Linked DNA regions of Homo sapiens: region 1 is linked to region 2. The links come from fine-mapping of genetic effects on plasma protein levels. Region 2 holds a variant in brackets. A gene starts in the other region. All regions are shown on their forward strands.

What was found. PIP is the posterior inclusion probability: the model's chance that the variant is causal. The UK Biobank Pharma Proteomics Project read protein levels with antibody pairs (Olink). The fine-mapping took linkage between variants from a reference panel, not from the people measured, so its PIPs are less certain.
Region 1: it holds the start of FABP9, and the variant in region 2 is fine-mapped to the plasma level of the FABP9 protein (UK Biobank, PIP above 0.99).

The regions. Positions count from the first base shown.
Region 1 is chr8:81,458,640-81,474,818 of GRCh38, forward strand. It overlaps FABP9 (fatty acid binding protein 9), which reads right to left and starts at 2,940. Exons shown (of 4, transcript NM_001080526.2): 1 at 2,812-2,940; 2 at 526-698; 3 at 1-64. The coding sequence starts at 2,884. It overlaps LOC101927118 (a long non-coding RNA gene), which reads left to right and starts at 2,819. Exons shown (of 9, transcript XR_001745980.2): 1 at 2,819-3,335.
Region 2 is chr1:17,266,922-17,274,461 of GRCh38, forward strand. PADI3 (peptidyl arginine deiminase 3) reads left to right here. Exons shown (of 16, transcript NM_016233.2): 6 at 916-1,041; 7 at 3,312-3,490; 8 at 3,958-4,061; 9 at 4,146-4,257; 10 at 6,419-6,526. Among named protein-coding and RNA genes, the nearest start is that of MIR3972, 7.2 kb to the right of the region's middle. RefSeq lists a silencer at 3,776-4,019 and an enhancer at 7,076-7,540. The variant C/T (reference allele first, on the strand shown) is at 4,007.

The sequences.
Region 1 (16,179 bases), not on the chromosome of region 2:
TTGTCTCTTTGCCAAGCCATTTTTGGACGTGAATCATTGAGCCATTCTCTAATGTTATGGTGCTCTATAAATGCATAAAGAAATCAGAAGTAGCAACTCACTACCTTCTAACCTACATGAGACCACATATCTACTTTTTAATTTCTATTTTGAAATTCTTTTCTTAAAATCCTCACTTTTGTTGTCATGATGTAGTACTATCAAACTAGAAGTCTCAAGAGATTATTCAATTAGTGCTCTTTCCTAGGCAAACAATGCATAAGCTATTTGTGTTTAGTTGTTTCTTTCTATGTGCTCTTTCATATGACAAAGAGATAAGAAAAAATGAAATGAAAACAATTTGAATCTTTTAGCCCTATTGTTAACCATCAAAATAATTAGCAAAAGGATTAACTTTAGAGATGTGCGACTATTAACAGAACAAGCCCAGACAGACTTGGTGATAAATCAAATTACAGTAAACCATGCCTAACCACCTTCTAACTTTTTCCTGATTGTTGAACACCAGGAAGAATTAGTTCTGACCTTTACTTTCCGGTTGTCTGCTGTAGTTTCATCAAATTCTTCCCCCAGCTTGAAGGAGATCTTAGTGTCCTGGAAAGAACTTTCTGTTCTTATGGTCATCATTTTCCCATCAACACTAATAGTTACTGTCGGTTTCACTAACCCTGCCATGTTCCGGGCTGCGAAATTCACTCCTACAAGACAGAGATAGCCTTGGACCTTATTAAGACATTGTTAACAATCACTCTGGAAGTCAATTTTCAAAGAATGCTTACTTTACCTATTTTGAAATTTTGGATAATGTATAGTAACTTATTTTATGTTTTCTGTGATATCAGGGCTGAGCTAGATCCTCCCAGTCATAAGGTATATATGTGACATTTTGAAAAGCTAAATTCACTCTCTGAGACTATTACACTTCCTCTAAAATGTAAATTTGTATGGTGCCTTTCAAGAGATCAAATGCTTGCACTTCACCTTGTGGAGTGTTACGATAACCTTGTGGGTGCGGGAGGAGTTTGACTTAGAGCCTGGCCCTGTGGTTTGGTTGGGAATTTCCCATTGTCAAACTTGACTCCTGCAGTTGGTGGGCAGAAGAGCTGACTCCTTCTCTGTCCTGATATCAAACTCCATTTCACATTTAGATTGTGGAACTGATATGACACATCTTACTGTAGAGAAGCAGTGTTAGACATCTGCATCACAAAGAAGAGTGAGATGGTTAAAACCCAGGCTCTAACTTGGCCACTTGCTAGCTTGGGCATATTATTTACCTCTCCTAACCTTCAGTTTTCTCAATAGTAAAGTGTGGATAACTGTATACTTGACCTCGCAAGTTTTTTTTTTGTTTGTTTGTTTGTTTGTTTTTTGTTTTGAGACAGAGTCTCGCTATGTTGCCCAGGCTGGAGTGCAGTGGCACAATCTCAGCTCACTGCAACCTCTGCCTCCCAAGTTCAAGCGATTCTCCTGCCTCAGCCCCCCGAGTAGCTGGGATTACAGGCACATGCCACCATGCCCAGCTAATTTTTGTATTTTTAGTAGAGATGGGGTTTCACCATGTTGGCCAGGCTGATCTCGAACTCCTGACCTCAGGTGATCCACCTGCCTTGGCCTCCCAAAGTGCTGGGATTGGAGGCCTGAGCCACTGTACCCAGCCAGCGGATGTTTTAAAAGGTTAAATGAAAGGGGTTAGCATGGTACTGGCACATAGAAACTGCTCAGCTGTTATTCTTGCTTGTATTATGCCTAAACCCAGCTCCCAGTCAACACAAGTGCTACTCTGGCCATAAGGCCCAAGTTTTTTATATACCCCCCCAATTTTTATTCAAAACAAGTGAGTCTATAAATCTATGAAGAGACAGAAAAACTTGTTTCTTATGACCCTCTGAGAAAGTGAATATTGACTACATCAGAGGAACAAATATTACATTTATAAGCACATTGACTTATTATGGGGATAAGGCATTGTTATTTCATTGTCTAGAATGAGTAAACATAATTAATAATTGTAAGCATCCATTAAGCATGTTATGTAAGTTAAAAAAAAGTAAAGATAAGAAAGTCCTTGGCTTTGTATACAGTTTACTACAAGGGAGGTTTCTCTTAATTAAATATGAAAAATATGAAATAATTGCTGTTCTTCCATTAGTAAAGAACAGTTTAGCTATTATACACCCAAGTCATTATAATTAATGTGTAACTAAATGACTTGAGTTAGAGATTAAAGGATTGGTAGGGTTTATAATTCTGAGGAATATCCAGTGGTGAGACATTCAATGAGTAAAAATGTTGTGTTTCTTCAGATTTGTAATTCTTCAAAACCATGTTTATAAAATATCTCTCACATTTATGAGAACTCTAAAAATTAACCAACTAGAAATTTTGTTAGTTGATACTGCTGTTTTAAAGCTATAACTTAAACCTTGAAACAAATTTAATTGATCAATTTAATTGTAGGTAGTGATTACTGTCTATAAATTTGAAGCTGGGAAAAATGTTATTAAATGAAATGACCAAGCTAAAATGAAATTCTATCTAGAAGTTAGGTGAAGTATTTTCAAAAAGGATAAATGGGCTTAAATATATGGATCATGACTGGACAGAGGTGTCTGTGGGCCTAGTCTTCCAAAAAGAGACAATTATTACTAGTAATTTAAAAAAGCAAAAGTAGAAGCATACATTGTGTTAGTCTATATACCCTAGGATCACAAAAGGAAGATAATTGTAGGAAAATTCATGGTAAAGTACAAACCCAATCACATCACAAAATGCTTTGCCAATTTCCAAATTTGTAATGGTATTTCTCACCCAGTTCTTTCATGTAATCCTCAAAGTTTTCACTGGAGACCAGCTTCCAGGTTCCCAAGAAGGGCTCAACCATCATGGAACACTTGCTGAGAAGAGCCACTCGTAATTGAAAACCAAAGAAATATAGGCATTACGGTGCTGCCAGTAGTTTAATTTAAAGAGCGTCTTCATCACGTGACTCTTCTGAAATGGCCAATGGGCAACAGCAGCAAGACTAAAGATTCTAGGCACCAGCATTTGACTCATTTTATTTACCTCCAAATTAAGAGACAGAAAATTAGCATGTAAAATTAAATTCTGGTCAATGATTTTAGCTTCTAGCAAAAAGATTTACACCCAAGTCACCTGACAAATATTACTTGTGGAACGGAGACAATCTTCAATAGACATCAGCTTTTTGAACAATGAATACTGAGTCAACCCTGGAGGAATATCCTGACAAATTGATAAACACCTGGCTGAGATGTTTTCCTACCTAAGACAAGAAATCCTTGCTTGGTCCACCTCAGCTGTTTTTTGTTTGGGTAAGTCACAGTGCTCAAACATCCTCTTCATTAAAATAATATCTTCCCTTCCCTTCCTTACAGGGTTGATGGGTTGATATTAGTTAATGTAACTAAAATGCCTATAATTGCTTGGAGGGAAATGGAGGGTATTATTAATATATTATCATTGTTGTTAATCGAAGGTAATTGAGGACAGGAAAGAAAGGTGACAATTATCATTGGATAATAGTATATGATTTAAGCTCTGAAAAGGAAGCAGAGCGAATGCCTACAAAATTCGTCTTTCAGGCTTACAAAGTAAACTCTACATTAAAAGATATTTTAAATTATAAGAAAAAATTTTGGCAAGTTTCATATAGAAAAAGATGTTTGGAATCTGCATTCTAAAAGAAAGACAAAGGCAGCAAATGGTTTCAATCTCTGTGCCATTACTTCTGAAACCATCTTCTGCAACCCCAATAATGGAAGTGGACTTTGCAGGTACTGAGTTTAGTAAGAAGGAGTAGATTCAGTAGCTGTTGATTTACATTACGGTTTTGAACTCCAGTTAACTTTAGAAGATGTTGGAAAGTTAGTGTCAGGGACCAGAAGAAGAATATTTATATTTTTACCTGCTTTGTATGAAGTATTTATTTAATTCAGAAAATATTGTTTGTGAACAAAATAAACAGGAGGTTGATATTTTGGTACTGTAAAACAATAACTTAAGTGGAATAAAGGATGGCTTTTGATGAAAACATATAAAGAAGAAACATATAATGTGATATCTTTATGGGTGGGACAATTATTAAATTATCTACAGTGCAAAACAGGGTAAGTGAAAATCCTGGAGTTAATTTCAGGAAACTAAGACCCAAGCTCAAAATAAGTGCCTCAGCAGTTGAAAGTGCATTCAGAGGTGATGTTCAAATATAGAGCAAGTTGTTAAACGTTTGCTTAACTGGTTCGAGATGTGTATGCACTCTCTGCTTTAAAGAAAGCAAGCATACATTGCTATGCCTGTTGGCCAGCTGGGTAGTGTAGCAAAGGTCTCCCATCAGCATAATCTTCCTTGTTGTTTTGATTCTCCTGTCATAGAATGATATTCCTGTGGTCCGTTTAGAACTCAGTTGGCCCATGAGACAAAAGCTAACATCAGATTTCTGGTTTCAATTATCCTCAGCAAACTAACGCAGGAAGAGAAAAACACCTCATGTTCTCACTTATAAGTGGGAGCTGAACAGTAAGAACACATGGACACAAGGAGGAGAACAATGCACACTGGAGCCTGTTGGGGCCAGGGCTATGGGGGGAGGGAGAGCATCAGGATAAATAGCTAATGCATGTGGGGCTTAATACCTACGTGATGGGTTGATAGGTGCAGCAAACCACCATGGCACACATTTACTTATATAACAAACCTGTACGTTCTGCACATGTATCCCAGAACTTAAAATAAAATAAAATAAAAATTCTGGCTTCTGTAAAATTCCCCACCCCTAGGAGAGAACCAAAGGGAGAGACAGTCTCTCTTTTGCCTCTACACATTTTTCTATCTCACGTGATATTTACAAGTGCTGCATCCATTGTGTTACCTCCTCAAAGATGGGGCCAGAACTGAGGATAGCAGAGCAGAAACGTGGAAGGAACTGAAGGCCACTTTATTTCAAAAATTTATATTATGTTAGTTAATAAATTCCATTCTTATTTAAACAGTTTTGTCTCTGAGCTTTTGTTACTTGTAGAAGAAGTCTTCATAATTACTACGCCTTTGTAAATAGCTTCACCAAATGGTGAATTTGGACCTTCACAACAACCAGTTGCATGAATCACATAGAGCTGGCCTCATGACAGCAGAGACCCATCTTCCTGAACCAACTCAAACATCTCTTTCCCTGTGACACTGGTTCAGAGCTAGATAATCCCCATGGCGTGAAGATAGAAATAAATGTTTAAGAGAAGTATATTAGCTTATTTCATAGTACTGCAAAGAGCTATTTCCCAGCTGTCTCCTGAGCTATTCTATGAGTATATCAAAAAAAGAAAATATTTTCCACTCACTTCTGTATCCTTAAGACAGTATCTGGCATATCATAAGTGTTCAATAAATGTTTTATGGATGAGTGACCAAAGAAATAAGTAGTATTTTTTTTAACTGGTAATTCTCATTAGTGTTCTTTATCTCTCTAACAGTGACTAAAGACAGAGTTTTAGTACATTATCTTCTCCTGACCTGGTCCTATGACAGGCCTTTTATTCTGGTCATTATCAGATGGTGGAGGGATGCTCAGACTCTCTTCATCTTTCTCAGTTATATAGCACAAGTCTCCCTTCTCAACTAAGAAAGTTCTCTGCTATTTCTGTTGCTACCACCGCTAGCCTTTGGCACTTTGGTTTGATTATATAAAAAAAGTGAACACCATTTCCTCAAGTAGAAAAAAAATTTTTAATCAGATTGTTCCTAATGTTAATCCTAGTAAAGGAACTAGAATACTGTAGTTTGTTATAGAATAGTTACATGTCTTGTTCTTATGACAGTTTCAAGGCTCATTTCTCCAATATGTCATTTTTCTATGAACTTTCAGCATCTCATTTTCTATATTGATTTTCTTGTGACATTTTAAGACATCAAGTAGTTTTGAATAATTTTTAATTTTGAGATGCTATGGTTGCCACTGATGATGGATACTGGTAAAGTTAAACATATACTGGAAGCTACACAAGTATTCAGAAATATGTCTGATAATTTATTGTTGCACATATAGTACTTTAGCTGGATTTGATAAAGCATCTAAGATTCTTATTTCCACATGCAGTGACACCTCTAAGTATCATATTCCTTACTGTGTTCATCATTCAATTTCAATTTTAAAGATGCAATAATATAATGACTTTTCAAAGTGTACATTTAATCTAGGACTCTGAAAAGTAATTATTTAAAATTTTTCTTTTTAAGACGATATTATATTATCCAATAAGGAAAACAAGTATTTTGAAATTAACTTTGGTTAATAGTCTGAATGTGATATTTGTCATTGAAATAGTCTTCCATTTGCTAGTATTTTCTACACTAGAGGAATTGATGTTATAATTTCAAGAGACTATTTGCTTAACATAAAAGATATATTTTTTTAAAACATCACTTTTTCCAATAATTTTTTTATATATGGGGCTTATAAGAGAATTTTTACATTGTTTTTACTTCTGGATCACTTCACTTATAATAAAAATTTTACTTAAAACAACCATACCAAATTAACTCTGAGCAAGTAATTGTTTTAATATGACAACTTCCAGTTTATTTTTACTAGTTACAAAATAAGTCCATCTCTTATCTATTATTTACTGCTTAATAGGTATATATAAAAATAGCAATTTCTTTCTTTTGTTTTTGGTGAAGGTTATTTATTTGAAGTGCTCACTATTTAAGAGCATATGGAGGCGGCTGACCACCTTGAAAATTCACCTGTAGTAGGACTGTTCCTTTTTTTTTTTATTTTTAATTTTACGTTAAGTTCTGGGATACATGTGCAGAATGTGCAGGTTTGTTACATATGTATACATGTACCATGGTGGTTTGCTGCACCTATCAACTGTCATCTAGGTTTTAAGCCCTGAATGCATTAGGTATTTGTCCTGATGCTCTCCCTCCCGTTGGCCCCCACCCCCTGACAGGCCTCAGTGTGTGATGTTCCCCTCCCTGTGTCCATGTGTTCTCATTGTTCAACTCCCACTTATGAGTGAGAACACGTGGTGTTAGGTTTTCTGTTCCTGTGTTAGTTTGCTGAGAATGATGGCTTCCAGCTTCATCCATGTCCTTGCAAAGGACATGAACTCATTCTTTTTTAAGGCTGCATAGTATTCCATGGTGTATATGTGCCACATTTTCTTTATCCAGTCTATGATTGATGGGCATTTGGGTTAGTCCAAGTCTTCGCTAAAAAATAGCAATTTCTTTCTAAGGAGTTATGCATATCATATTTATTAACATGTAAAGAATTTTTAGGCAAATTCATTTTTTGGCAATTGATATTTTCTCTTGTTTCATGCCACCTTCTTCCCCTAACTTTATTCTATTTGGTTGAGGTTTTTTTTGGTTACCTTTTAAATTTGAAATAATTACAAAAACACTTCCCGAACAACACAGAAAACTCCCATATATACTCTTTGCCCAGATTTCACAATTGTCAACATTCCAACACTTTTGTCCCTACCTCTCTCTATCTCTCTCCCTCCCTCCCTCCCTCTCTCTCTTCATAAGAAGCAAGCTGTTTGTTGCTCAGTCATTGAGAGTAAGTTGAGAAATGTTGCCCCACTCCTCTCCAAACAAGGATCTCAATCAGGAAATCAACACTGATGGCAATACTGCTATCTAATCCACAGACCCCACTCAAACCTTACCAATTGTCCTGACAGTTTTTCCTTTTCCTACTAAAAAAAAGGGAAAAAACCCAGCCTTTCTGACCCAGAATCCTGTCCGTGATCATGCGTTGCTTTCAGCCATCATGTCTCTTTAGTCTCCTTCAATCAGGAACAGATCTTTAGTCATTCCTCATCTTTTAGTACTGGAGACACTGGGGAAAAAAATCACTGTTCTAAGCAAGAGGCTGGGTCATCTGCTGAAAACTGACAAGTAATTTTTACATGAAAACTGAGGTCAGTAATGCTTCAGACTTTGAAAGGAGTATATCTAAATCAGAAATTGTAGCCCTTTGATGGCTAGAGTGGGAATTAGGGAAGAGGGGATAGCCAGCTCATTACTTAACCTGATCCTGTGTTTCTAAAGAGGGAGTGACTGGCTTTTTGGACTATTCATATCTGCTTCAAGATATAGGTGGACTCTATGACCACACTGTGGGTTTTGGAGAGGTACTCACTTAATCCTGCCTCTCTTCCTTTCAGAGTACAGTGTCCTCTATGCCTTTATGTATGTATTGATAGAAACAATGTCAAAAAGTGGAAAATTATATGAGCTTCACAGAGATCCCAGGCAAGATAAATGGGATAAATTGGGGAGCTGTTACTTGAAGATCTTTCTTGGATGTATCTATGGACTTAGTTTTATGGTGAAAATATAGGAACGTGAATTTGACTTATCTATCAAATTTATATTGAACTGGATCTTCTTATTCTATGATTCCACACCAATTGAAAAATAATAATTAGACTTGAAGACTACATTTTCAAAAATGACTAAATTCACAAATATACCTACATAAACGGACTTTGTAAAGGATTAGCACAGAGGCAACATTAGGGATGAGGAAGGCTTGAGAAGAAGGGAGTGGGAAAAAATGAATTCTGCCCAGGAAGAAGCAGAATGTAAAGTACAAAACAAACAGAAACCTTGAGGCAAGAAAGAAGATGCATGTTGGTATGATGGAAGCAAGAAATGTGAAGAGAACAGAGACATGATAAAACTGGAGAGTTAGATTTAAAAAAGGCAAGGATAAGACAGCTTCCACATGCCATGCTAACAGGATTGGACCTTTTCTGCCTACAATGAGAGTCACTAAAAGGTTTTAATCAGTGAATGTCCCAGTCAGATTTCCATTATCTAATCATTCATAAAGTCTACAGGGCTTAGGAAAGACTGGAGGTAATAGAGACCTAAAGACAGAACTCTGAAGTAATTAAAGAAAAAAATTACAGTAATATGGGTGGTGGGAAGAAGAAAAGCAAACATAGTAAAGAAGTTTGAAGTTAATATAATCAATATTTTAAAAAATAAAGTAAATGTTATGGAGTGAGGAAGGAGGATTATTCGAGAATGATTTTAAGAGTTTTGAAATGAAAAACAAGATGGAACATTCTGACGTTGCTGAGATGTGGAAAAGAGGATGAGGAACAAGTTTAAGGGAGAGGGTGGAAGGAATTGCTCATGATAAATTTGGGTTTAGGGGCCGGGGACATCCACTTGTACACCTTTAACTCTTTTTAACTCTCCCTTCTCCTTTGGTTATATAATCACCTTTTTTTGGTGGGAGAGTTATTGTGGTAAAATACACAAAATATTTGCTATCTTAACCATTTTAAGCATGCATTTCAGTGGTGTTAAGTACATTCATATTGTTGTGCAACCATCACCACCATCCATATCCAGAACTCTTTTCATCTTGCAAAACTGAAACTCTGTGCCTGTTAAATAGTAACTTTGTATTCCCCTTTTCCCACAGACCCTAGGAACCATGGTTCTATTAATACATTCTATCTGTGATTTTGACTACTCTAGGTACCTCATGTAAGTGAAATAATATAGTGTTTGCCCTTTCATCACTGGCTTATTTTACTTAGCATCATGTCCTCAAGGTTCATCTGTGTTGTAGCATATGTCAGAATTTCCTTCTTTTTAATACTGAGTAATAATAATTCATTGCATCTATATACTACATTTTGCTTATCTATGCATCTGTCCATGGATGCTTGAGTTGCTTCCATGTTTTAGCTATTGTGAATAACTTGCTATAAACATGGGTGTACAAATATCTCTTTGAGACCCTGCTTTCAATTTTGGGGGTATACATCCAGATGTAGACTTGCTGGATCACATGGTAATTCTATTTTTAATTTTTAAAGGAATTGTCATACTGTTTTTTACAGTGGCTTTACATTTCTACCAACAGTATGCAAGGGTTCCAATTTCTCTACATCCTTGCTAACACTTGTTATTTTCCAGTTTTTGTTAATAGTCGTTATTCTGATAGGTGTGAGAAGGAATCTCATTGTGGTTTTGATTTGCATTTTCCTAATAATTAGTGATTCTGAGTGGAAAAAGCACAAACTATTTTTCCTCTGCTCTCATACTACAACAATCAACACTGAAAACTTCTGTGACCAAATATGTGGGGATTTCTCCCCACCAACAAGCTCGTAATAAATTCTACAGCAGACACCAGCTGAGTGTCCTCTAACTCAATTCAATTCTGACACAATCTCCCTGGAGGTAAAATCAATCTCACAAGACTGCCCCCAACTTCAGACACCAGTAGCAAGTCCAGGCCGCTGGAACTTCTGACCAACAGGCTTCAAGCTGGGGTTTCCATGACCGCCTCCTGGGGTTTGATTAATTTACTAGAGCAGCTCACAGAACTCAAAGAAACACTATGTTTACTGGTTTATTATAAAGGATATTACAAAGGATACAGATGAAGAGATGCATAGGGTGAGGTATGGGGTCAGGGGCATGAAGCCTCCCCAGGTACTCCACCCTCCAGAAACCTCCTGTGTTCAGCTACTGGAAGCTCTCTGTAACCCATCTCTTCAGACTTTAAGCAGATGTCATCAGACAGTCATGATTGAAACACAGACAACAATGTAGAAATGTAATTGGACCAAAAAAGTATGATTATAATACAAAAGACTGAGTGAGGAAACCCAGCAAGGCCTACCTGTTTAGTTCTTCTTTGGTTCCCTGGAGCAGGACCCCTTTCTTGTAGTGTCTCTGCCTGGCCTTACTATCAGGATAATGCTGGCCTACTAGAATGAATTAAAAACGGTTTCCTTCTCTTCAACATTTTGGAAAAATATGAGAAGGATTGGTGTCGTTCTTTAAATGTTTGGTAAAATTCACCTGTGACGCCAAGAGGTCCAGAGATTATCTTTGTTGTGAGATTTTTTATTATGATGACCTGCAATCAGACAAGGTAAGTCAGAGCATTTTTTCATGTCCAGCTCCAACACAGAGTGGTGGGGTTAGAGGAGAGTATATTTTTAGCTTTTATGACCTGCCTTGGGGAGAAAAAAATGTTCCCGGACCAAACTGAAGGTTGAGCTGCCATTTCTCTTGGCCCCATAACAAGATGCAGAAGAAGTGGGGAGGAAGAAAGTTTTAATTTCTGTAACCAGTTACAGAGAGAAGGCCTGGAAATTATTGCCAGACCAACTCAAAATAACAAAGTTTTCCAGAGCTTCTATACCTTCTAAGCTATATGTCTATGTGTAAATGTGCATTCATCTAAAGACATAAGTGATTAACTTCTTTTAATCTATAGCTAAGGTCTGAGTCCTGAAGACCTTCTTCTGGAGCCTCAGTAAGTTTACTGAATCTAAATGGATCTAGGTGCTGGGGTGATTACCTTTATCTTGCCTCCCGCTAAATCATAAAGGTTTGGGGAGTTCCTTTAGACACCAATAAACTTTTTTGTGGAGGCCTGGGGAGTTTCTTCAGACCCCCAATAAAACTTGTTAAATCCTAAAAGGGTCCTATTAACAATTCCTTCATTATCTTGTCATGCTTCAAGGCCCAGGAAAAGACTAGGCAAAAACTCTTGGTGAGCTCTTTGTTACACTCCAGCCTTTGTATACGGGCACTGGCTCAATCATCTTTTAATGGTTAACCTTGTTACTCAGTCAGTGCTGGGACAGTTGTAGTGGAGGCCTGCATTAGTGAGACCTAGCCTGCCACAAAAGGAGCATATGAAAGGAGGGCAGGAGAAGGTCAGAGAGAGAGAGAGACAGAGATTCTGTTTTCTGAGGCCTGCTTCTGAGGCCAATATTGTAACAAAACGCTGTCCTTCATGTTTATTGCTCTGACACTTTCCTGAAGTTGCTTCAGGGATCAAAGACAGAAGGCTGAATACCTAGCTACTTATGAAATAACAAGGCTGTGGGAGTTCTGAGCCAAGAACCACGGACAAAAATAAATAAATAAATAAATAAATAAATAAATAAATAAATATATCTTACCCTTCATATAGTCACAGGGATGTTGAGCATCTTTTCATATGCTTATTGGACATTTATATATCTTCTTCTTTTTTTTTTTTTTTGAGACAGAATCTCTCTCTGTCACTCAGGCTGGAGTACAGTGGCATGACCTCGGCTCACTGCAACCTCCACCTCCCAGGCTCAAGCGATTCTCGTGCCTCAGCCTCCTGAGCAGCTGGAACTACAAGCATGCACCACCTTGCCCAGCTAATTTTTTTGTATTTTTTGTAGAGATGGGGTTTCATTATGTTGGCCAGGCTGGTCTCAAACTCATGGCCTCAAAGGATCTGCCCTCTTCAGCCTCCCAAAGTGCTGGGATTATAGGTGTGAGCCACCACACCCTACCTTATATAACTTCGTTGGAGAAATGTCTATTCAAGTTCTTGGCCCATTTTGTAAATCAGGTTGTTTGTTTCTTCTTGTTGAGTTTTAGAGGTTCTCTAGATGTTCTTTTTTTTTTTTTTTTAGTGATGGGGTCTCACTCTGTCACCCAGGCTGGAGTGCAGTGGTGGAATTATAGCTCACTGCAGCCTCAAAGTGAGTAGCTGGGATTATAGGCATGAGCCAGTGTGCCCAGCTGCTCTGGGTATTAATCCCTTTTCAGAGATATGATTCACAAATATTTTCTCCAGGTCTACCTTTCCACACTGCTGATAGTGTCTTTTGATGTACAAAATGTTTAACTTTCATAAAGTACAACTTGACTATTTTTTCTTTTGTTGCCTGTCCCTTTTGTGTCATATTCAGGAAATCACTGCCAAATCCAATGGAATGAATTTTTTGCTCTATGTTTTCTTCTTTGCTATGGTCTAAATGCTTGTGTGCCCCCAAAATTCGTATGTTGAAATGTTAACCTCCAAGTTGATGGTATTAGGAGGAAAAGCCTTTTGGAGTTGATTACATCATGAGAGTGAAACCCTCTTGATTGAGATTCAAGCCCTTATAAAAGAAACCCCAGAGAAGTAGCTTATTGCTTCCACCATGTGAGGACACAATGGGTAGGCAGTAAGTGGACCCTTCCCAGACATTGAATAACACTTTAATCTTAGACTTCCCAACTTCAAGAACTATGGTAAATAAATTTCTATTATGTATAGCTCCCTAGTTTGTATTGATTTATTATAGCCTAAATGGACTAAGGTAGTCTTTGTGTCTACCTTTCTGCCAAGACTATACTATTTTGGTTATTATAGCTTGGAAATAAGTTTTGACAGCAGGGAGTCTGAGCCCTCCAAATACATTCTTTTTCAAGATCATTTTGGCCATTTGGGGGTCCTTGGAAATGTTATGAATATTAGTATGGATTTTTCTATTTCTGCAAAACATGTCATTGAAATTTTGAAAAGGATTACATTAAATCTGTAGATTGCTTTGGGTAGTATTAACATCTTACCAGTATTGAGTCTTCCAATTCATAATCATAGGATGTCTTTCCATTTATTTATGTCTTAATTTATTTCAGCAAAATTTTGCAGCTTTCATTGTACAAGTTTTTATCACATTGAATAATTCCCAAATATTTTATTATTTTCAATGATGTAAATGAAATTCTTTTCAAAATTTCCTTTATATTGTTTATTGTTAGTGTATAGGATTACAACTGATTTTTATGTTAATTTTATACCTGAAACTTTGCTGAAATTATTTATTCTTCCTAACAGTATTTTGTGTGGAATCTTCAGGGTTTTTTACACGTAAGATCAGATCATATGTGGAGACAGTTTTACTTCTTTCTTTCCAGTTTGGATCCCCTTTATTTATTTTTCTTGACTAATTGCTCTAACTAGGACTTCCAGTACTATGCTGAATAGAAGTGGTGAAAGCTGGCATCCTTGCCTTGATCCTGATCTGAAAGAAAAAAACCTTCAGGTATTTCACCATTATGTGTGATGTTAGCTATGGGCTTGTCATAATTGGCCTTTATTACGTTGAAGTAGTTTCCTTTTATTCCTAGTTTTTTGAAAGTTTTTTTTTTTTTTAATCATGAAAGGGTGTTGAATTTTGTGAAATGCTTTTTCTGCATCAGTTGAAATGATTGTGTGTTTTGGTCCTTCCATTGTGTTAATAGAATGTATTACATCAATCAATTGTTATATTTTGAGCCATCCTTGAATTCCAGGAATAAGTCCTGCTTGGTTATGTTACTAGTACTTTCTTGAAGATTTTGCATCAATGTTCATAAGGGATATTACTCTGTAGTTTTATTTTCTTGTAGTGTCTCTGTCTGGATATGGTATCAGGGTAATGCTGGCTTCATATAATGAGTTAGAAAGTGTCTCCTTCTCTTCAATAGTTTGAAAAATTTTTGAGAAGAATTTATATTACTTATTCTTTAAATATTTGGCAAAATTCACCTGTGAAGACAGGAGGTCAAGGGATTTTCTTTATTGAAAGATTTTTTTGATTAAATTTCCTTGCTAGCTATAGGTCTATTCAGATTTTTAAATTTATTTCTTTATAATTTAGTCTTGATAAGTTTTGTGTTTCTCAAAATCTGTCCATTTCGTAAGGTTATTTCATTTGTGTACAATTTTTTATAGTTCTTTCTTCTAATTATTTTTATTTCTGTAGAATTGGTAGTAATATACTAACTTCCATTTCTGATTTTAATAATTTGAGTTTTCCCTCTTTTTCATTCTTAGTCCATTTATGTCTGTCAATTTTTTTTTTTTTTTTTTTTTTGAGATGGAGTCTTGCTGTCACACAGCCTAGAGTGCAATGGCATAATCTCAGTTCACTGCAACCTCTGCCTCCCGGGTTCAAGCGATTGTCCAGCCTTAGCCTCCCGAGTAGCTGGGACTACAGGTGTGTGCCTCCATACCTGGCTAATTTTAGTATTTTTGGTAAAGATGGCATTTCGCCATGTTGGCCAGGCTGGTTTCAAACTCCTGACCTCAAGTGATCTGCCCACCTCGGCCTCCCAGGGTGCTGGGATTACATGCATGAGCCACTGCACCTGGCTCTGTCAATTTTTTTTTTAAATATTTTCAAAGAATTAACTTGGTTTCATTGATTTTTTCTACTGTTTTCTCTATCTCTCTTTTGTATATCTCTGCTCCAATTTTTATTATTTTCTGACTTCTGCTAGCTTTGAGTTTATTTTGTTGTTTCTCAGTTCATTAAGTTGTAAAGTTGCATTTTTTATTTGAGATCTTTCTTGTTTGCTAATTTAAGTATTTATAGCTCTACATTTCCTCCTGAGCACTACTTTCACTGTACCCCATAAGTTTTAGTATGTTGTGTTTTCATTTTTATTCAATTCTAAGTGTTTTCACACTTCCCTTTTGATTAATTCTTTGATCCACTTATTAAAAGTGTGTTGCATATGGACACATATAGGGGAACAACACACTGGGGAATTTCAGAGGGTGGAGGGTGAGAGAAGAAAGAAGATCAGGAAAAATAACTAATGAGTACTAGGCGTAATATCTAGCTAATGAAATAATCTGTTCAACAAACCCCAATAACACAAATTTACTTGTGTATCAAACTTGAACTTGTACCCTTGAACTTAAAATAAAAGGTTTTTTAAGAGTATTGCTTAATTTACACAATTTTGTGAATTTTTTAGTTTTACTTGTTATTGACTTCATGAGGAAACTGTGGATATTTTCTATCCTATAACATCTATTGAGACTTAGTTTGTGGCCTAACATATGGTCTATCTTGGAAAATGTTCCATTTACAGTTAAGAAGAATATGTATGCTGCTGTTATTTGGTGGAATGTTCTATGTATGTCTGTTGTATCTAGTTGGTTTATTGTGTTGTTTAAATCCTCTGTTTATTTACTTGTCTTCTGTCTGGTTTTATCCATGGGGGTTGGAGGGGGAGAGTATTATTGAAATCTCCAACTATTACTGTAGAACTGTTTGTTTTTCTGTTTGGTTTTGCTTATGTTTTTTATTGTCATTAGGTGAGTAAATGTTTATAATTGTTATACTTTCTTGATGTATTGAAACAATATACATTGCCCTTCTTTGTCTCTTGTGTGTAATTTTTTTTTTTAATTTAAAGTCTATTTCATCTGATATTATTATACCAACCCCTGTTCTCTTTTGGTTACCATTTACATGAAATTTATTTTTCCATTCTTTTACTATCAATCTATTTTTGTCTTTGGGTCTAAAATAAGTCTCTCGTAGACAGTGTACAGTTGGATCATTTTTTAAAACTTTA
Region 2 (7,540 bases):
TGAGGCCAGAGTCCAGGGGAGAGCGCCAGCCTCCAGACACACCTCGATGCTCCTCAAAACCCATCTCAGGCTGGCAGCTGCCCCTCCCTAGTGTCTCTAGGGCCAGTGAGCACTCACATGCCAGGGCAGAAGCTCTGGAAATGAGCCACCTCGCCATTCTCTTCCTCCAGGGGAGCAGAGGATGCTAGCATTATTTGAGCACCTACTGTGTGCCAGGCCTTTTCCCCAAATTCTCATTGAATCATCCAAGTGGGACAATATCATCACCCCAATTTAGAGATGAGGATGCTGAGACTCAGAAGCCAGGAGACTCCCTGAAGACTGTGTCTGATCTGGGGCCTCCCCTCTCAACCCCAAATCTGGGCCTCCTCCTTCAGCACCTCTGGCCTACATTTCTGTGACTCCCCCACCTCTTGCTAAGTCCATCTGTCCTGAATTCCAGCCCCATGGAGAATGAGCTGCAATATTCCAGGGTATGCTAGGTGCTGTCCACGGGAGATGCCCACGGTTGCCTTCTGAAGTGGGCACCATTGGACATGGGGATGCTGGGGCTCCAGAAGGGAGGGGCTTGTCCAGGGTCACAGGGAGTGATGCTGGGATGGAGGCCAGAACCCTTACCTGCACGACGCCCACATGGCCTTACCCTCCTTGCTTCTCTGGAGCACCTGTTGTGTGTCAGACACCAGCTGGCTATGCCACACTTCATGTTTCTCTGGGCAATTGAGGAAACATGAGTCCAGGAGAGCATAGATGTCTTCATGGTTTGTTCTTGATGGCTTCCAGGGTTTTCACAAAGCTAGGGCTGGGAGACCCAGGTCTTGATACCCACTGACCTGGGGAGGGAGCTGGGCAGCAGAGGAAGGGGCCAGGGGCCAGGACTCCCTTGAGTCACTACCACTCTGTCTGGCTTCACAGACCTGGAAGACATGTCTGTCATGGTCCTGCGGACGCAGGGCCCTGCAGCCCTCTTTGATGACCACAAACTTGTCCTCCATACCTCCAGCTATGATGCCAAACGGGCACAGGTCTTCCACATCTGCGGTGAGTTTGTGCCACTGCCCCTTGCCATCTGTGCCCTGTTGCCAGGTTGCCTACCAGGGAACCTCCTGTTCCTGCCTTGGGCCATGGGCAGGTCCTGCTTACACTCCGGGAGATGCCCTGGTGGGTGGCGGGTCGCAGTAAGAACAGTCAGAAGTGGGGGCTTTGGAACTGATGAACTGGTGCCCCCAGCACAACACCTGGCCTGAGGTCATTTTATTTGATGAATGACCTTTTCAAATACATTTTAAGCATGTGTAGAAATTCTTATCAAAAATTTCAAACATACACAAAAAGCAGTGCTGTGAATCCCCATGTGCCTGTCACTCAGATTAAACAATTATCACTGTTTTGTCTGTCTCGCTGAAGTTTTGTAAAACCAACCCCAAACACCATAGATTTCACCCAATTAATTCAGTTTGTATTCCCCCCAAATATAGATGGCTGTTGTTTTACATAGTCTGCCAAAATCACAAGAAATACAAGTAAAAATCTAAATGCCTTTGAGAAACTAAAAATGTATACAAGTAATAAGATGCTTTTTTTTTTTTTTTTTTTTTTTTTTTGAGACAGAGTCTCGCTCTGTTGCTCAGGCTGGAGTACAGTGGCGTGACCTCGGGTCACTGCAACCTCCACCTCCTGGGTTCTGGCGATTCTCCTGCCTCAGCCTCCCAAGTAGCTGTGACTGCAGGCATGTGCCACCACACCCAGCTAATTTTTTGTATTTTTAGTAGAGACAGGGTTTCATTGTCTTAGCCAGGATGGTCTCAATCTCCTGACCTTGTGATCTGCCCGCCTCGGCCTCCCAAAGTGCTGGGATTATAGGCGTGAGCCACCGTGCCTGGCCGCTTATTTTTTAAATAATCAGACAATATGGAAGTATAGAAAATGAAACCTGAGAGTTCTCTACCCGTCTCTAAATCTGACTTTTTTTTTTTTTTTTTGAGTCAAGGTCTTGCTCTGTTGCCCGGGCTGGAGTGCAGTGGCATGATCTCAGCTCACTGCAGCCTCCACCTTTCAGGCTCAAGCAATCCTTCCACCTTAGCCTCACGAGTAGCTGGGACTACAGGCATGTACCACCACACCCTGCTAATTTTTTTTTTTTTGTAAAGACAGGGTTTCACCATGCTGCCCAGGCTGGTCGTGAACTCCTGGGCTCAAGCAATCCACCCGCTTTGGCCTCTCAAAGTACTAGGATTATAGGCGTGAGACGCCGCACCTGGCCTGAATCTGATTGTCACTGTTAACGAGTTGGGATGTGTGCTTCCCAACTTTATTCTACATGTTCTCCAGCGTGTGTCCATATGCTGCTTTCCAACCGGCTTCTTTCATTAAGTAATAATCCCACACACCTTTTCTGGTATTTATTGAGCTCTACTTCATTCTTTTCCACTGCTGTATAATATTCCTAAGCATAGAGGTGCTGTGACTTACACAGTTCTCTGAACATCATAGTGGTTTGCAGTGTTTTGATTTTATAACAATGCAGGTTGCTTGAGGTCAGGGGCTTTGTTCAAGTCCAGAACCGTGCCCCATGGGTGCACTGTAGTTGCACAGTAAATATTTGATGAATTAATGAATATCGAGCACTCTTGTACAGAAATATTATGTGACTTTGTACCTATTATTGTTTGTTTGTTGTTGTTGTTTTGTTTTTTGTTGGTTTTGGTTTTTTTTGAGATGGATTCTCGCTCCATGCCCAGGCTGGAGTGCAGTGGTGTGATCTTGGCTCACTGCAACCTCCGCCTCCTGGGTTCAAGCAATCCTCCTGCCTAAGCCTCCTGAGTAGCTGGGATTATAGGTGTGCACCACCACCGCCCGGCTAATTTTTGTATTTTTAGTAGAGACAGGGTTTCACTATGTTAGCCAGGCTGGTCTTGAACTCCTAACTTCAGGTGATCCACCGCCTTCGGTCTCCCAAAGTGCTGTGATTACAGACATGAGCCACCGTGCCCAGCCTGTAGATGTATTTTTGTAGGAAAGATACCTAGCAGTGGAATTGCTGGGCTTGGGGTAAACATTACTTTGTTGGATGCTGCCAAATTGTGCTCCAAAAAGGTATGAGCGCCAGTCTTAGAAAGGAAGACCCTTTCCCCCAGCCGTGGCCCCCACTGTGTATTACCTGTCCTCTCCTTTGCCAGTGGAGGTGAAAGGAGGGAGTTGTTGGAGGACTTGGAATTTTTGGTGAGGCTGCAGACCTCTTCCTGTGTCCCTCATACTCATGCTCCCTGGGCCCACAGGGAGTCACAGCCACCCCGTCCCTCCCCTTCCAGGTCCTGAGGATGTGTGTGAGGCCTATAGGCATGTGCTGGGCCAAGATAAGGTGTCCTATGAGGTACCCCGCTTGCATGGGGATGAGGAGCGCTTCTTCGTGGAAGGCCTGTCCTTCCCTGATGCCGGCTTCACAGGACTCATCTCCTTCCATGTCACTCTGCTGGACGACTCCAACGAGGTAGGGACAGAGGGGGTTCAAGAGGAGCTCCACTCGGGACCAGCCTGGGCAACATGGTGAAACCCCATCTCTACAAAAAAAAAAAAAATAGCGAGGTATAGTGGTGTACACCTATAGTCCCAGTTACTTGGGAGGCTGAGGTGGGAGGATCACCTGAACCCCAGGGAGGTTGAGGTTGCAGTGAGCCATGATCACCCCACTGCACTCCACAGCCTGGGCAACAAAGTAAGACCCTGTCTCCAAAAAATAATAATAATAAAGGGCAGTGGGGAGGACTCCATTCCTGGTAAGTCTACCAGGCACCACTGGTGTGAAAGACCCCAGACTTCTTGACCACCCCTCTGGTTCATTTCCATCTTGCAGAGAAGCAAGGGGTTTTCTTATGGACCACAGTGGTGGAATCAGAGTCCCCCCAGGCCTCTGGACTCCAAGTCCAGTGCTCTTTCTCCCCTGGTCTGCCCCTGCAGGATTTCTCGGCATCCCCTATCTTCACTGACACTGTGGTGTTCCGAGTGG[C/T]ACCCTGGATCATGACGCCCAGCACTCTGCCACCCCTAGAGGTGTATGTGTGCCGGTGAGTCTTGGGGCAGTGGGTGGTCCCTCTGGCCCCCAGGCCCCGGCTCCATCCTGAGCCCCTCTTCCCTGGGCTTGTCCGTAGTGTGAGGAACAACACGTGTTTTGTGGATGCGGTGGCAGAGCTGGCCAGGAAGGCCGGCTGCAAGCTGACCATCTGCCCACAGGCCGAGAACCGCAACGACCGCTGGATCCAGGTAACCACAGCCACTGGGCAGGGCCCAGCAAGGACGCCATCCTGGAGAGAGAGGCCTTCATTTGGGGGCCACCGAGAAACATCCAGGAGGACCTGGGTGCTCCCCAGGGAACTTGCTGCCGTTTCTAATGTGAGACCTAGAGGCTTCTCTCCAGAACCTTCTGGAGACCCACGCTGATCCTGGATTCAACACCCATTCACCCACCGGATCTGGGCTAGGCACTAGGCTAGGCCCACAGGGGTGGCACAGGTGTGAGACACACACTCCCTGCCCTCAACAGCTGAGACCAGTGGTTCTCATCAAGAGGCGATGTGTCCCCAGGAGACGTTTTGCAGTATCTGCAGACAGTGCGCAGGACAAGCCCCCACAATAACATATCATCCAGTCCCACGCCTCAGTAGTGTCGAGGCTGAGAAACCTTGATGTGCAGAATGATTGCTACAAAAATACCTACTCCTACTATCTAGTGTGTAGCTGGGGCAACATGGTGAAACCCTGTCTCTGCAAAAAAGTTAAAAAATTAGCAGGGCATGGTGGCGTGTGTCTGTAGTCCCAGCTACTCTGGAGGCTGAGGTCAGAGGATCACCTGAGTTTAGGAAGGTCAAGGCTGCAGAGAGCTGTGATTGTGCCACTGCACTCCAGCCTCAGCAACAACAACAAAAAAAAAAAAAAAAAAAGAGAGAGAGAGAGAGAGAAAAAGAAATATCTAGGGTGCAGAGGCTATACCAGCAAAGCACCAGTAGGGTTTGGGGGATGCAGCATCACCTCTGCCCAGGGAATCAGTGAAGACCTCCAGGAGGGAGAGCATCTGAGCTGGACCAGATTTGGCAGATGAGGGCACATGACTTCTGCCATTTATGCCCCATTTTCTGCAGGCCAGGCATAGCATCATTTCATCTTCTTGATAACCCCCTGTAAGTCCCCCATAATTCAGGAGCTCTTAGGGGAGCATGACTGGGCCACAGAGCTGGTAAAGGCAGTGCTAGGACTCAGGCTGCCAAGCACCAGGCTGTACAGGTTGGTGGTCCTGGCAGAGACCGAGCATGCGCAAAGGCCCGGGGGTGGGAGGCAGGAGAGAGAACCTTGTGTGTTCTCCTCTGTCAGGGCACTGGTTCTGAGAAAGGCAAGGGTTGAGGTCGGAGACCTTGAATTCCAAGTTAAGGAGCTTTCCTCTTGGCCGGAGGTCAGTCCAGTGAGAGGGTTTGGGGCAGGACTCTGGGGCACGATGGGCTGGGTTTAGAGCCTGGCTGTGCCACCAACTAACTAGCTGTGAGCTTTGGGACAAATATTTTTTAATTTTTATTTATTTTTTTAAATTAATATATTTTGAATTTATTTTTCTTTTTGGAGACAGTGTCTCTCTGTCACCCTGGTTGGAGTGCCATGGCATGATCACAGCTCACTGGCAGCCTGGAACTCCTGGGTTCAAGTGATCCTTCTGCCTCAGTCTCCCGAGTAGCTGAGACCACAGGTGCAGCCACCAGGCTCAGCTAATTTTTTGTAGAGATGGGGTCTTGCCATGTTGCCCAGGGTTGTCTCAAACTCCTGGCCTCAAGCAATCCTCCCGCCTCACCCTCCCAAAGTGCTGGGATTATAGGTGTGAGCCACCGTGCCCGGACTGGATAAATAATTAGACCTCTTAGTTCCTCATTTTCCTCATCTGTCACATGGGATAATTATGGTGCCCACGCCCAGGCATGTCATGAGGATGAATGGAGTTAATGTTTATAAAGAGTTTAGGGCAGGACCTGGATGTGAAGTTCATTCACACTGGGCCATCTTTTCCTCCAGAACCAGAGGGGTCAGGACTGACCTGGGCACATTTATGGATCCAACTCAGGCCACTGTGAGTGCTTCTCTGTGTCCACCTGCCTTGGCCCAGTACTCACAGGGACACCCCCAAGGTCATGTCCATGTTCTCGTTCACCTCCGGCCTCTGTCTTGCTGTGTGACCTTAGACAAGTGCACCCCCTCCTTGAGCCTCCAGCCCCTCCTCCAGTCAGCAGGCACCCTGACCTCGGTCCTGTCCGCCTCCAAGCACAAAACATGCTTGGGCCAGGGGACTTGGTGAGCAGTCTGCCCCACAGGGCTCAGAGCCGAGCCAGCAGGGGCAGCTGTTGACTGTCACAGCTGTGCGTCTCTCGCCTCTCCTCACTTGCAGGATGAGATGGAGCTGGGCTACGTTCAGGCGCCGCACAAGACCCTCCCGGTGGTCTTTGACTCCCCAAGGAATGGGGAACTGCAGGATTTCCCTTACAAAAGAATCCTGGTGAGTGGTCCCGGCCGCAGCCCACCCCTGAGAGCTGAGAGGCCTTACCCCAGGGGCCACACCGGGGTGTGGGGTACAGAGGGCAGCAGTGGGAACCGTGCTCTTTAGGGATGAGGGTAGGGTTGCCAGATAAAATGCAGGGATGCCCAGTCAAATGTGAATTTCAGACAAGCAACAGGTTAACTTTTTGGTGTAAGTACGTCCCAAATATTGCATGGGATATACTTACACTAAAAAAGTTGTCGTTTATCTAAAATTCAAAGTTAATTGGGCATCCTGTATTTTTATTTACTGAATCTGGCAGCCCTAAATAGGGGAGGCAGGATGGTGCACCTGTTCAGAGCACAAGCTTTAGGGTCAGACCAACCCTGTTCCGTTACTTACATGCTGTGTGATGTTGCGTGAGTTACTACCGCTCTCTGAGCCTCAGTTTCCTCATCAGTAAAAATGACATTTTGGCCCTGGCCTCACAGGGGTTTGTGAAGCATCTCATCATCACAGTACCTGCATGGAGGGAGTGTGTGTGCGCGCACCACTATTAGCTAGTATCATTATTTTAAGAAAAAGGATAACAGGGAAGGTGATGATTGCTAACGAGGACCTCTTGAGAAAACAAGAGTGACTTGCCTGGTGCCGTAAAGAACAAGAGACCCCTCCAACCCCCTCACTGATCACACAGATGCTAGGAGCTCTCTCTCCTGACCCTTGATGTTGTCGAAGTTGCTTCTGAGAGATAGCCCTGGGGAGGTCTCCCCTTCTCTAGAGTTCAAAGACAGAGGCCCAGAGGGCCATCAGCAGCCTCTTGGTTCCCACAATTGGCCACTTGAGCTGCTACTTGCCCTTGGGCTGAACTTGCAGGAAGGCTGTGTAGGTAAGGGGATGGAGTGGCCATGGCCTCAGGCTCCATGTCCGATGGGGAGTGCAGGAGCAACCGGAGCGCCCCCTGCTGTCTTGCCGTGATAAGGCAGCAGGGCCAGAGAGTCCGAGCACTTCCCGACTTTGCCTGCTATGCGT